Homo sapiens: one gene and its partners. The protein of the gene in region 2 interacts with the protein of the main gene of each other region in a biochemical or structural test. Each region holds a gene or a part of one and is shown on either strand. Other genes may lie near its edges. The genes, in order: PRKN, UBE2J1 and UBR5.

What was found.
Region 1: the proteins of UBE2J1 (region 2) and PRKN form a complex in vitro, tested with the Homo sapiens proteins (4 studies listed by BioGRID).
Region 3: the proteins of UBE2J1 (region 2) and UBR5 form a complex in vitro, tested with the Homo sapiens proteins (one study listed by BioGRID).

Annotation. Positions count from the first base shown.
Region 1 is NC_000006.12:162,259,018-162,262,766, forward strand, and holds part of PRKN (E3 ubiquitin-protein ligase parkin), read right to left. Parts: intron 3,749-3,749; coding exon 3,508-3,748; intron 1-3,507. UniProt on the Homo sapiens protein: Functions within a multiprotein E3 ubiquitin ligase complex, catalyzing the covalent attachment of ubiquitin moieties onto substrate proteins. Substrates include SYT11 and VDAC1.
Region 2 is NC_000006.12:89,351,021-89,354,769, forward strand, and holds the start of UBE2J1 (ubiquitin-conjugating enzyme E2 J1), read right to left. Parts: upstream 1,703-3,749; 5' UTR 1,550-1,702; coding exon 1,519-1,549; intron 1-1,518. UniProt on the Homo sapiens protein: Catalyzes the covalent attachment of ubiquitin to other proteins. Functions in the selective degradation of misfolded membrane proteins from the endoplasmic reticulum (ERAD) and is essential for cells to recover from ER stress.
Region 3 is NC_000008.11:102,411,046-102,414,794, forward strand, and holds the start of UBR5 (E3 ubiquitin-protein ligase UBR5), read right to left. Parts: upstream 1,656-3,749; 5' UTR 1,190-1,655; coding exon 1,128-1,189; intron 1-1,127. UniProt on the Homo sapiens protein: E3 ubiquitin-protein ligase involved in different protein quality control pathways in the cytoplasm and nucleus. Mainly acts as a ubiquitin chain elongator that extends pre-ubiquitinated substrates.

The DNA of each region.
Region 1 (3,749 bases), about 73 Mb from region 2:
CCCACGTCCAGCCAGCACTTATATTCTTCGAAGTTAAAATTGAAGACTCTGGAAGCACAGAAAATTGGGATTTCTTTTAATCTCTTTTTCTGAGGCACAGGTTTTCAAACATTGTATAACCAAGGATTTTTTTCATCTTTTCAAATGATAGATGTTTTATGTGTTTAATATGTGAAGTACGTAAAGAGGAATGGTCTCAGGCTGCTGTGATTGGCTTGGTGTGTTCACCTCTCACCGACCTGCCTCTGTTCTCCCACCCAGCGTCCGATTGTTCCGTGAGAACAACAGGTAGGATCCATAATTGTAAGGCTGGAAAACCTTAGCCATAGGGCAGAGTTTCTCAGAGTATGGTCAGTACCAACATTTTGGGGCCTCTACCCCCAGACAAATACATCAAAATTTCTGGTCACAGAAAAAGAATGAAAGAAGATTTTTTTTCTCGCCATTCTGGCCATCAAAGAAACATGGAAAAACATGCAAGATAATTCTGCACATGAGAGTCTGTGAATCTCTGCTCTAGTAACTTTACGCTATCATTTTTAGTGAAGAAAAATAATCATATAGGCATACTGTTTGCATATAGTCATTTCAAATCATTCCATTCAGTCTTAACTCAAACCAAGAATGAACCAAGACATTTGAAGAGATGAAATCTCAATTTCTCTGTATAATTTTAAATAAAGCATTCGCTCTAAAAGCTAAATGCACAGGAGTTCTGTTGAATGACTGACTATGTTTACAATTTGAAGCAATTTAGTAAACATGTATCACCACTCTTCTAAGAGATTTTGGGGAAAACTACAGTTAATTGGACAAAAACTCCATCCTCAAAGAGATTAAAAGGTGAAGTCAGAACTGGAGTACAAAATAGCAAGTAATAAGGGAGAGTCCTAAGAGTTCTGAAAAGGATTCCCTCCAGTTCTAATGAGCAGGAGAGGATTACTTGTAGTTTAGCTGTTAGTTTAACACAGAGTTAAATCTGAAAGTTGACCTGGGATGCACCATCTCTCTTTTCCCAATCTTTACAGATGCAACATATCTTTACAGAGGCCTTTTAGTAGCAGCATGTAGGGTGCCAGGAAGTTGCCCCCAGTGTGTAGTGGTGCAGGGAGAAGTGTTAGGATGGCAACCCTGCAGCCCCCAACTGCACCATGTAGAGTTGCCTGAGCCAGTCCCTAGCCTGCCAAAAGCACAAGGCTGGCAGGCCACAAGACAGAGGGGTAAATGAGAAACAGGGTGATCAGAGGTTAGATGTGACTCAGACATGAGTGGAAAGTCAAGGTGAAACAGCGCATCATCATAGATCATACAGTACTCTGAAGGCTGCTGTCATTTACCACATTCCATAAATTTACTAGAATTTATTCTCTATTGTTTGGGTTGAAATAATCACACATTTCAATTTAAAAATATAAAGAGAATATTAGACATTTAGCAGAATTTTCTCAGTGCCTACTGGTACTTCAGACCCTATATAGAGAGAATACTATATTTTCTTAAAATATTATGGTCTAGAGAGAGAGAGAGAGTCAGTTGAAAGTGTCAATAATTCTAAGTTCATTCTCATAAAAGAAAATTCTGGAGAAGACCAAGGGCAATTTTATGATAAAACAAAATAAGAAGACTAAAATTTTCAGATGAATATGGTTGATAAGAGAGTAGAGCCAGATGCACTAGGAAATGTATTAAAGAACATGAATATGTACACAACAGGATTCTTGTGCTCAAATTGTTTTTAATATTCAGATAATAAGTAAAGGTTTAATTTTGCTCTAAACAATGTGATTTTTTTATTTTTAGTAAGAATTTTATTTTGGGAAATCAAATTAAAGAACTAGTAGATAGGTCTCCTAACATAATAAATCCAATCTGTTATACAGTTGTACAGGAACAAACATAGTAAATATAGGGTTTGGTACCATTTTTGGTTTCAGGCGTACACTGGGGGATTTGAAACGTATTGCCTGTTGATGGGGAGGGACAACTGTACATGTGAGACACCCAGAAAAAATGCATAAATCTCAAAGAGGTGCCTAAAATTCAGGCTTGAATACCATCTTCAATGGCAAAGGAAGAAAGGGAGAGGAGAAGACAAGAGTAAGGTTTGTTAGGCAGATTATTCAGTTGGTGCCTTCTCAAGGATCAGAGTCTCCAGAGACTCTGTCCTCCTCATCCTAGTAAGGAGAGGGAGACACCCTTACAAATGGAGACTTCCTTGGTAGATATAAATTTCCCTTACAAAAGGGTCACTTCTACTCTGTTTTTAGAGCTTTTCCTGTGTCTACTGTTTCTCAAAATAATCAGCTTAAAATAATACTTATGCTAAAGTGGCATATTTTGGGGTGGCATATTCTGGTCTCATACACACTCAAGGTGGAATTTTCCATTGTTTGGTTTATAATGTTGGAGCATGAGTATTCTCTAGAGGTGTCAGTGTCAGAATGATCTTATACATACTCTGGTTGAAACGTCAGAATTGTTATGGGCTTGGGTTCGATATTTATATTAATATATTATTCTGGTCACAAGAGTATTGCAGGGGTTTAGATTTATCTCATTTTTCCCCATTTTTGACATTTATTTCCATTTCTCAATTTTTCTTTCCAGACCTGAGGTGCCCAGCTCACATGAAGCAGAGCCTCTTTCCCTCCCACAATCATCTCAAGATCACCAGAGCATCAGTTAATGCCTTACTTTCTGGGCTTATCTACTCCTGTATTTAAAGATGTTGTTTCTACATTTTCACTTGTCCTTGGAAATTATCTTTTTTTATTTTTTGCAAGATCATCGAAAATTTTTAAGTTCCTTAAATTTTATTTAGTAAGTTTAGTAGGAGGCATTTCTTATTATGTTAGGCTTCCATCTTGCAGGCCCCAGAACTTTCTGACACTGTGAAGGCCATACCAGCCCACAACTGCCAGGATCTATTGTATGTGGGAGGAAAATCAACTTCTACCCTGTAAAGTCATTGTGATTATTTTGTGTCTTCTGTCAAACACAGTAAAAATTAATTCTATTACACCTTTGACTATTTAGATTAGAGAATAAAAGACTAAGAGGCACATATTAATTTTTTTAAAATAACTAAACAATAACAATCTTTGCCAAAGAAAAGCATTTTGAAATGGGTGGTAGCATAGAGAGAAGGAAGAGTCCTTTCACACTAAGGATGTCATTGCCATTGGCATATCTGGCTTTAGAAACTACAAATGGCTCGATTAGCTTTAGAGTTCTTTCTGCTTTTTAGAATTTTTCTACATCACTAGAAACATATCTCTTATATTTAATCTCAATATGAAAACCTGTTTCATAGTACTTACAATAAATGCATTCTCAAATGTTACATCAAAGTACTCCACCTACAGTGATGTCTCCTTGTAGTGAATTAGAGACTCCAATCCAAAACGTATCATAAACTAAATATGCACCCGGTGAGGCCATGCTCCATGCAGACTGCACTAAACAAACAAACAAAATGCTTTAATAATCTTAGAGCATTCCAATTACCTGGACTTCCAGCTGGTGGTGAGTCCTTCCTGCTGTCAGTGTGCAGAATGACAGCCAGCCCCACAGAGTCTCCTGGGAGGACTGAGCTGCTGAGGTCCACCCGAGTCAAGCTCTGGGGCTCCCGCTCACAGCCTCCCGCCGCGTTTCTGGGGTCGTCGCCTCCAGTTGCATTCATTTCTTGACCTTTTCTCCACGGTCTCTGCACAATGTGAACAATGCTCTGCTGATCCAGGTCACAATTC
Region 2 (3,749 bases):
CCTCTTTCTCTTTGGTCTTTTCTTCCTCCCTCCCCACCCCGGGATTCTCTTTTTTTTTTTTTTTTTTTTTTTTTTTTTTGAGATGGAGTCTCGCTCTGTCGCCCACACTGGAGTGCAGTGGCGCGATCTCGGCTCACTGCAACCTCCTCCCCGGGTCAAGCCATCCTCCTGCCTCAGCCTCCCGAGTGGCTGGAACTACAGGAGTGCGCCACCACCATGCCCGGCTGATTTTTGTGTTTTTAGTAGAGACGGGGTTTCACCATGTTGGCCAGGCTGCTCTCCACCTCCTGGGCTCAAGCCTCCCAAAGTGCTGGGATTACAAGCGTGTGCCACCGTGCCAGGTCTTCATCAGATTTTTTTAAGGAGTCAGTGGCTCCTAAAATATTATGACCAGTTCTACACACTTGGTCACCTAAGGACATTTCTTAGCCTGACAGCACTCAGGCTAACAAAGCTCCCTCCAATCAATATCCTCAGGCTTTTCTGGGGTTTTTGCATATTCTGAAACCTTACAAAAAACCCAAAGATTCACAGTGTCAACTCTTTCCACAAGGATGCTAGTCTTGCTAATTCCTACTGAGAAACAGCTTTTTTTGGAAGGAAATTTTAAGCAACAGCAAAAGTTGGTGAAATCATCACTAATATCCTAGAGTTTATCATGCAGAGTTAACTGTGGAGTTTCTTCCCCCTGACAAAATGTATCAAGGTACAGATAGAAAAAATACCATTTAGAGGATCCAATGATTCATTTCAAGCCTGTTTTATTAAGCTGAGAAAGCTAGTTGCTTATCTTTATAATGCACCAGAAAGTAATTAGAGGCTAGGATTGCTGGGACTGCTTGTGTAAATATAAAGCAGGATCATTAAATGCAGGAAAGGAATCGCTACGACTGAATACAGATACATTTCATATTAGCCAGTCTGGCAAAAATCAAGGTTAGCTCTCAAGAACAGGGCTCAACGAGGTGTTTTTTTGTTGTTGTTTTGTTTTGCTTTAGCTCTATAGTTAACTGGTTTAGTTACAGAACATTTCCTTTATGTCTGTAATTGTATTCGCCCAAGTGCTGCAAATAGGATATTTAAACGACCAACTCCTCAAATGTGAGTAAATCAGCCGGCAGTAAATAGAAGTAAATAGAAGTCCGGTGGCAGCGACAGGGAGGGAATAGCGACCAGGTACAGCGAGGGGGTTGATGACTATCGCCCACCGACATCACCTTTACACCTGTTCTCAGGGATGAGTTTCTGACCCAGCTCTACGGGACCAGGCGAAGATGAGAAAAGGGAGAGGCTGGGTGCTGCGGGGCGCGCTGGCCGGCCGGGGGATTGGCAGCGGACGTCCACCCGGCCACCTCGCCCTGCGGCCTGTACTTCCCGGGCAGGCGGCGGTCTCGCGTAGAGCGCGAAACCAGGAGCTGAGCCGCGAGTGGCGCCAGACGCGAGGGGACCGAGGCGGCGACCACCCCGGGGTCCAGGGTCACTCCGCCCTCCTCGCCCAGGGGCCCCAGCCCTGCTCACCCGGACTCTTCAGGTTGTAGCGGGTCTCCATGGTGGGTCGCTGGCTTGGCTCCGGCCTCCCGGGCCGCTGCCACCTCCTCTCCACGCGGCCGCTGCCCGGGTCTCAGCGCGGCTCGGGCGGACGGGGCCTGGCCGAGGAGCCTCGGCAAATGCCGCCCAGTCCAGCCTGGACTGCGGGCGGGGTGGCAAGGCTGAGTGCGGGCGAGGCGCTCGCTTCGCGATGGCGCCGCCTCCTCCACTGCGCCCCCGCCTCCCTGAGTGCCTGGCAGGCACCGGCGCCGGCCGGGGCGGCGCTGAACCGGGCGCCCGGGCTGGAGGTCAGCCTCCTCGGGTAGTCGCAGGCCCAGCCCTGCCGCGGCCGCCCGGCTTGCGTCACCCGCCCTCGTCCGGGATTTGTGAAGTTGCCCTGACGTGGCAGTAGCTTCGTGGCGGTCGGTCACTACCCAGCCGCCGCCCGCCCGGCGAAGCCGGCTTGGGGAGGTGCAGGAGCGAGCGGCGTCCTCGTCCTCTCGTCCCGGCCCTGCCCGCTGTAGGCGAGGTCCGGGACCCCCGGGCCCTCGAGAGCTCGGAGGGGGCGCCGGGCTCCGGCTGCAAAGCTGTCCGCAGCCGGCTGCCCGCGCGCGGTCCCGCAGGGTCTGGGAAAGGCTTTGTTTTTAGATTCAGTTGCTGTTGCGAGGGGCGGGGGTTAAGTGAGGAGGGGGAAAGCCAGTGACAAGGAAATGGAATAGGATTTTTTTTATTTTTTATTTTGTGTGTGTGTGTGACGGTGTCACCGCTCTGTCGCCCAGGCTGGGATGCAGTGGCGCGATCTTGGCTCACTGCAGCCTCTACCTCCCGGGCCCAAGCGATCCTCCCACCTCAGCCTCCAGCGTGGCTGGGACCACAGGTGTGTGCCACCATGCCCGGTTAATTTTTTGTATTTTTGTTAGAGACACGGTTTCACCGTGTTGGCCAGGCTCGTCTCGAACTCCTGGACTCAAGCGATCCGCCCGCCTCGGCCTTCCAAAGTGCTGGGGTTACAGGCGTGAGCCACGGCTCTGGCCAGAGTTGGATATTCATAACAATTTTTTTCTCGGGTAGTGTGTTAGGTGCACGACATGTTTTAGGCATTGCAGGAGTTTTGTTTTTTTTGGTTTGTTTAGATGTAAAAGCTGTCAAAAAAAGGAATTACATTTAATGTGAGGGAAAGCATACAAATATGAAAGGTTAAACTTCAAAGGACACACTTACTGCTTCATTGTCCAATGTGTGGGATCGAGAGAGGACTGAGTTCAAAAGACTTAAGGAGTAGGGACCTTACTAAAGGAAAGGAGGGAGGGATTGGGAAGGTGGGGAGGATAGAAAGGGTTAATCAGGTTGGGCAAGTTTTATTCTGTTATATAAAGACATAAACTCTTAAATTTGATTTGTTTTCTATTGTTAAAGTTAATCTAAATCTGTGAGTTTCTTGATGAAATTGGGAGTAAAAAAGTGAAGGATATCTAAAATTAGATGGTATATTTTAAATCATTCCCTGATGTTGTTTTCTGTATAGTAAACTGATAATCTGACTGACTGAGATATGCAAACAAAACCAAACTCCAATGCTGCTTCATTCATTCATTGTGTTGAATCTTCAGATTAACTGACACTTGACACCCTCTCCTGCCACAGCTCTACAAAAGCCCCTAATTTGTGCAGTAGGCCCTACCACAGCAAGGCCTGCAAAGCAGGTGCTGTATATAATGCGTTCCTATTTGATAGCTGAGTACTAGAAGCCTTTTGCTATTCAGCCTCCAAGGTCCATCAATCTCTGGGTGCAGTTGTCCTCTGGGGCTCTCCTTTAGCCACCACCACCTCCACTGCTCCCTGGGGCTCTTCTCCCATAGGACTGGTTCAGTAGGAATAACAATCTCTCCTTCCTTGGTTAACAACAATAACAACAATTTATTGTGGACATGTGCCCATAACAATTTAATTATGGGCACATATCAAAGCTTAATTACAATCATGCTCCAAGATCAAAGCCAATTCCAAAATTTCTCTCAGCAGAGACATTTACAGAGAAAAGAGAAGTGGCTGGCAGGTGTGGTGGCTCATGCCTGTAATCCCAGCACTTTGGGAGGCCAAGGCGGGCAGGTCACCTGAGGTCAGGAGTTGGAGACCAGCCTGGCCAACATGGCAAAAACCTGTCTCTACTAAAAATACAAAAATTAGCTGGGTGTGGTGGTGCATGCCTGTAATCCCAGCTT
Region 3 (3,749 bases), on a different chromosome or scaffold from region 2:
CCAACAGTGAAGGAACTTTTCCTGCCTTATCTCAGTTCCCTGAGAGCATGCGGCACTGCAATTCAATATCCTAAACTGGCAAGGAACGGTGGCGGAAGAAAAGGAGAAATCCAAACCAAAACAGCCTATAAAAGACAAAACATAAAATAAAATCATAATTCATCCTCCGCCCATAGCAAACCCAACCCAGAAATTTACAGCGTGTTAAGAAAAGCAGCATTGCGAACTGCAAACGTAAGAGTTTTCCTTTGACACTCTACGCACGGTTTTCAGCTGTCAAATTACAACTCAGGAAAACACTATCATTAGAATAGAAAAGGAAACAAAAAAGCTCGCACCACAGGGGCTAGTAGCAGGAGCTGCCAGCACCATTTCAGGAGGAGAGTAAAGGGAATCCAATGCACTTCCCCACCCCCGCTTGAATCCATCCCCTCCCGGGGCAGGCAAACCTCACTGCAGGGGCTCAAATTTAATAATAATAACAATAATCATGGCGCTTCCTCCCTCACTCCCTCCCCCAACTATCACCTTCCCCCCACCCCCCGCCCGCTCCCAGCAATCTGCCGGGAATCGGCTTCTCTCCCCAACCCGACCCCGGGATCCCCAGGTCCAGACCACCCCACCGGACACAGCTGCCGGGGGCCCGGGACAAGCCCAGCCCAGCCCACCCCGGGGCCCCTGGCCCCGCTTCTCCTCTTCCCTCTCTTTTTACCTCCACCATCCCCCATCCGCATTGTCTGTCTCAATTCAACTTTGACTAATATGGATTCCTCGGGCCTTGGCCGGGCAGTAATTACCGCCTGCCCCCCGGGAGCCAGAAACCACCCCCCCATCTCCGCCGAGTTCAACGCCGCTCCTTGCGGGAGGGGGAAGGGGGTTTACAGAGCGCTCTCCAGTCTACACCGCGAGTCCCGTCTACACCGCGCTCCCCCCGCGGCCCCCTGCCCCCGGGATGAGAAGTTTGCCCCGGAAGGAGCCTAGCAGGAGGCAGTAAGGACCCCCGCACCCCACCCCAGCTGGCCGGCCGGCGCGTAAACACCCGCACCCGCCCGGCACGGCCCGTGGGGGAGGGGAGGGAGGGAAGGGCGCCCCTCCCCCCGCGCCCGCCGACCCGCCAGCCCTATTACCTGTCATTGAGCTGGTCCTCGGTGCCCGGCAGCGGGTGAACCACGAAATGGATGGACGTCATGGTGCTTTCCTTCTCGTCCTCCACTCGAGGGCGGCCCCCTCCCGCTCTCGCCCGCCCCCCAGCCCTCTACCCCTCCCCAAAACCCACAGCCGCCGCCGCCTCCCAGTCCCCAAATGGAGGGAAGCAAATACGCAGGGGCCGCCGCCGCCTCCCTGCCGGGCGTGTGTCCGCGGCCCGGAGGGGCGGGCAGGAGGGCGAATCCACACGCCACCCGCTCCCCCGGCGACAGCGCGGAGTGCGAGGCAGGCGGCCGGGACCAGGGGCGCGCCGCCGGCCAGCGGCAGACGGGCGTTGGGAGAGGGGCGGCCGGGGGAGGAGAGGGGCGGCTGCTGGCTGCGGGCTACGGGGACGGTCTGGTCCCGGCGGCGGACGGGGTCCGGACTAGGGGAGGTGAGGAAGGAGGGGAAGGAGATGAGCCCGCACCGCGCGTCACTAGCGAGAAGCTGCCGCCGCCATCTTCACTTCTGCCCCAGTTTCTCCGTCTCGCAGGCTCCGCTCCGGAGCGGCGGGGGAGGGGCAAACGGGAGGAGGAGGAGGGAGGAGACCGGCGGGCGGGGGCGCGGCGGCGAGAGGCGGGGCTCCGGGAAACGGGCGGCAAGGCCCCCTCGATTGGGCTGCTCAACGTTGTCGGGCCACGACGCTGTAAGGCGCGTGCCGATTGGTCCGTTCGGCTCCCGAGCCCAGCCCCGCCGGGGGTGGGATGTCTCCAGAGTGAGTGTTCCGGAGAGCACGTGTTAGGGAAGGAGGAGGCTGCGGGCTAACCTGCCGGGAGGGAGGGTAAGTGTGTGTCCCAGAGGAGGCGAGGAGGAAGAGGGGCTCTTGTGTTCTTTCGCTCGGATTCCCCTGGGGCAGCCCTAATTATTTGGCGGATCCTTAGGGGTTTCTTGTTGCTTCTCATCCTTCATCCGCAGTTGTATTTATGGTGAAGTTGGTAAAATCAGTTAAGGGGCAAGACATATACAGCCTTTTATTGGAAAAGTAAGGAAATTATGTAAGGGCCTTTCCAGAAGGAGATAGTAGGATCCTGGAGTTGGCTTTGCAGCAACTTCTATTACCTCGGTCTCCCCAGTTTCCTCACCACCATCACATGCCCAAAGACAAAATGTGGAAATTTCCACTAATTTCCTGATATAAATGATTCGTGATTTTTTATTACTTTTAAATGAAAGATGATAAACCTGTTCTACAAAGGAGTTCAATTTATGATCAGTGGAATCAGAACGGAAAATTATTATTTTTTTTTTTTTTTTCCCCGAGACGGAGTTTCGCTCTTGTTGCCCAGGCTGGAGTGCAATGGCGCGGTCTCGGCTCACCTCAACCTCCGCCTCCCGGGTTCAAGCGATTTTCCTGTCTCAGTCTATGGAGTAGCTGGGATTACAGGCATGTGTCACCACGTCCGGCTAATTTTGTATTTCTTTTTTAGTAGAGATGTGGTTTCACCATGTTGGCCAGGCTGGTCTCGAACTCCTGACCTCAGGTGATCCACCCGCCTCGGCCTCCCAAAGTGCTGGGATTACAGGCCTGAGCCACCACGCCTGGCCGAGATAGGATCTTTTATACCGAGTTTCTACTATAAGACACTTTCAGAGTTTTGGCCACGGCGCACAGTGGCTCACGCCTGTAATCCCAGCACTTTGGAAGGCCGAGGATGTCGGATCACCTGAGGTTGGGAGTTCGAGACCAGCCTAGCCAACTTGGTGAAACCCCATCTCTACTAAAAATGCAAAAATTAGCCAGGCATGGCTGTGCGCGCCTGTAAACCCCACTACTCAGGAAGCTGAGGCAGAAGACTTGCTTGAACCTGGCAAGTTGCAGTGAGCTGAGATCATGCCACTGCACTCCAGCCCGGGCAACAGAACGAGACTCCATCTCAAAAAAAAATTTTTTTTAATCAAATAAGTCTGTTTTTTTTTCCCTAAGGAACCAATTCATGACTTTCTTCTCAAAGGTTTCTATGACCTCCTTTAAAAAATAAAGTACCTCTTCGAAGGCAAAAACTGAGAACATGACATTCCTTCTACAGAGGTGGTCTGTTAATGAATTACACACACACACACACAGTTTTGCTTAGGAAGTTCTTCTGAGCAAAATTTATGAAAAAATACTTACAAATCAGGACAGACCTGGTACCCTCAAGGCAGATAATGGAACACTTTTGTAGGTTACCAGCTCAACCATTGGCCCAGATTAGTTTAGACTAAAAAGTGATTTCAAGGTCACTATTAGATGTCCCTGGGAGCCCTGAGGAAGGAAGGTAGACCAGTAGACACTGCTAGATTTCAAGCCAAACAGATCTAAAAAAAATTTTTTTTTTTTGAGACGGAGTCTTTGCTCTGTCGCCCAGGCTGGAGTGCAATGGCACGATCTTGGCTCACTGCCACCTCCGCCTCCTGGGTTCAAGTGATTCTCCTGCCTCAGCCTCCCGAGTAGCTGGGATTACAGGCGCTGCCACCATGCCTGGGTAATTTTTGTATTTTTAGTAGAGACAAGGTTTCACCATGTTGGCCAGGTTGGTCTCGAACTCCTGACCTCAGGTGATCCACCCACCTCGGCCTCCCAA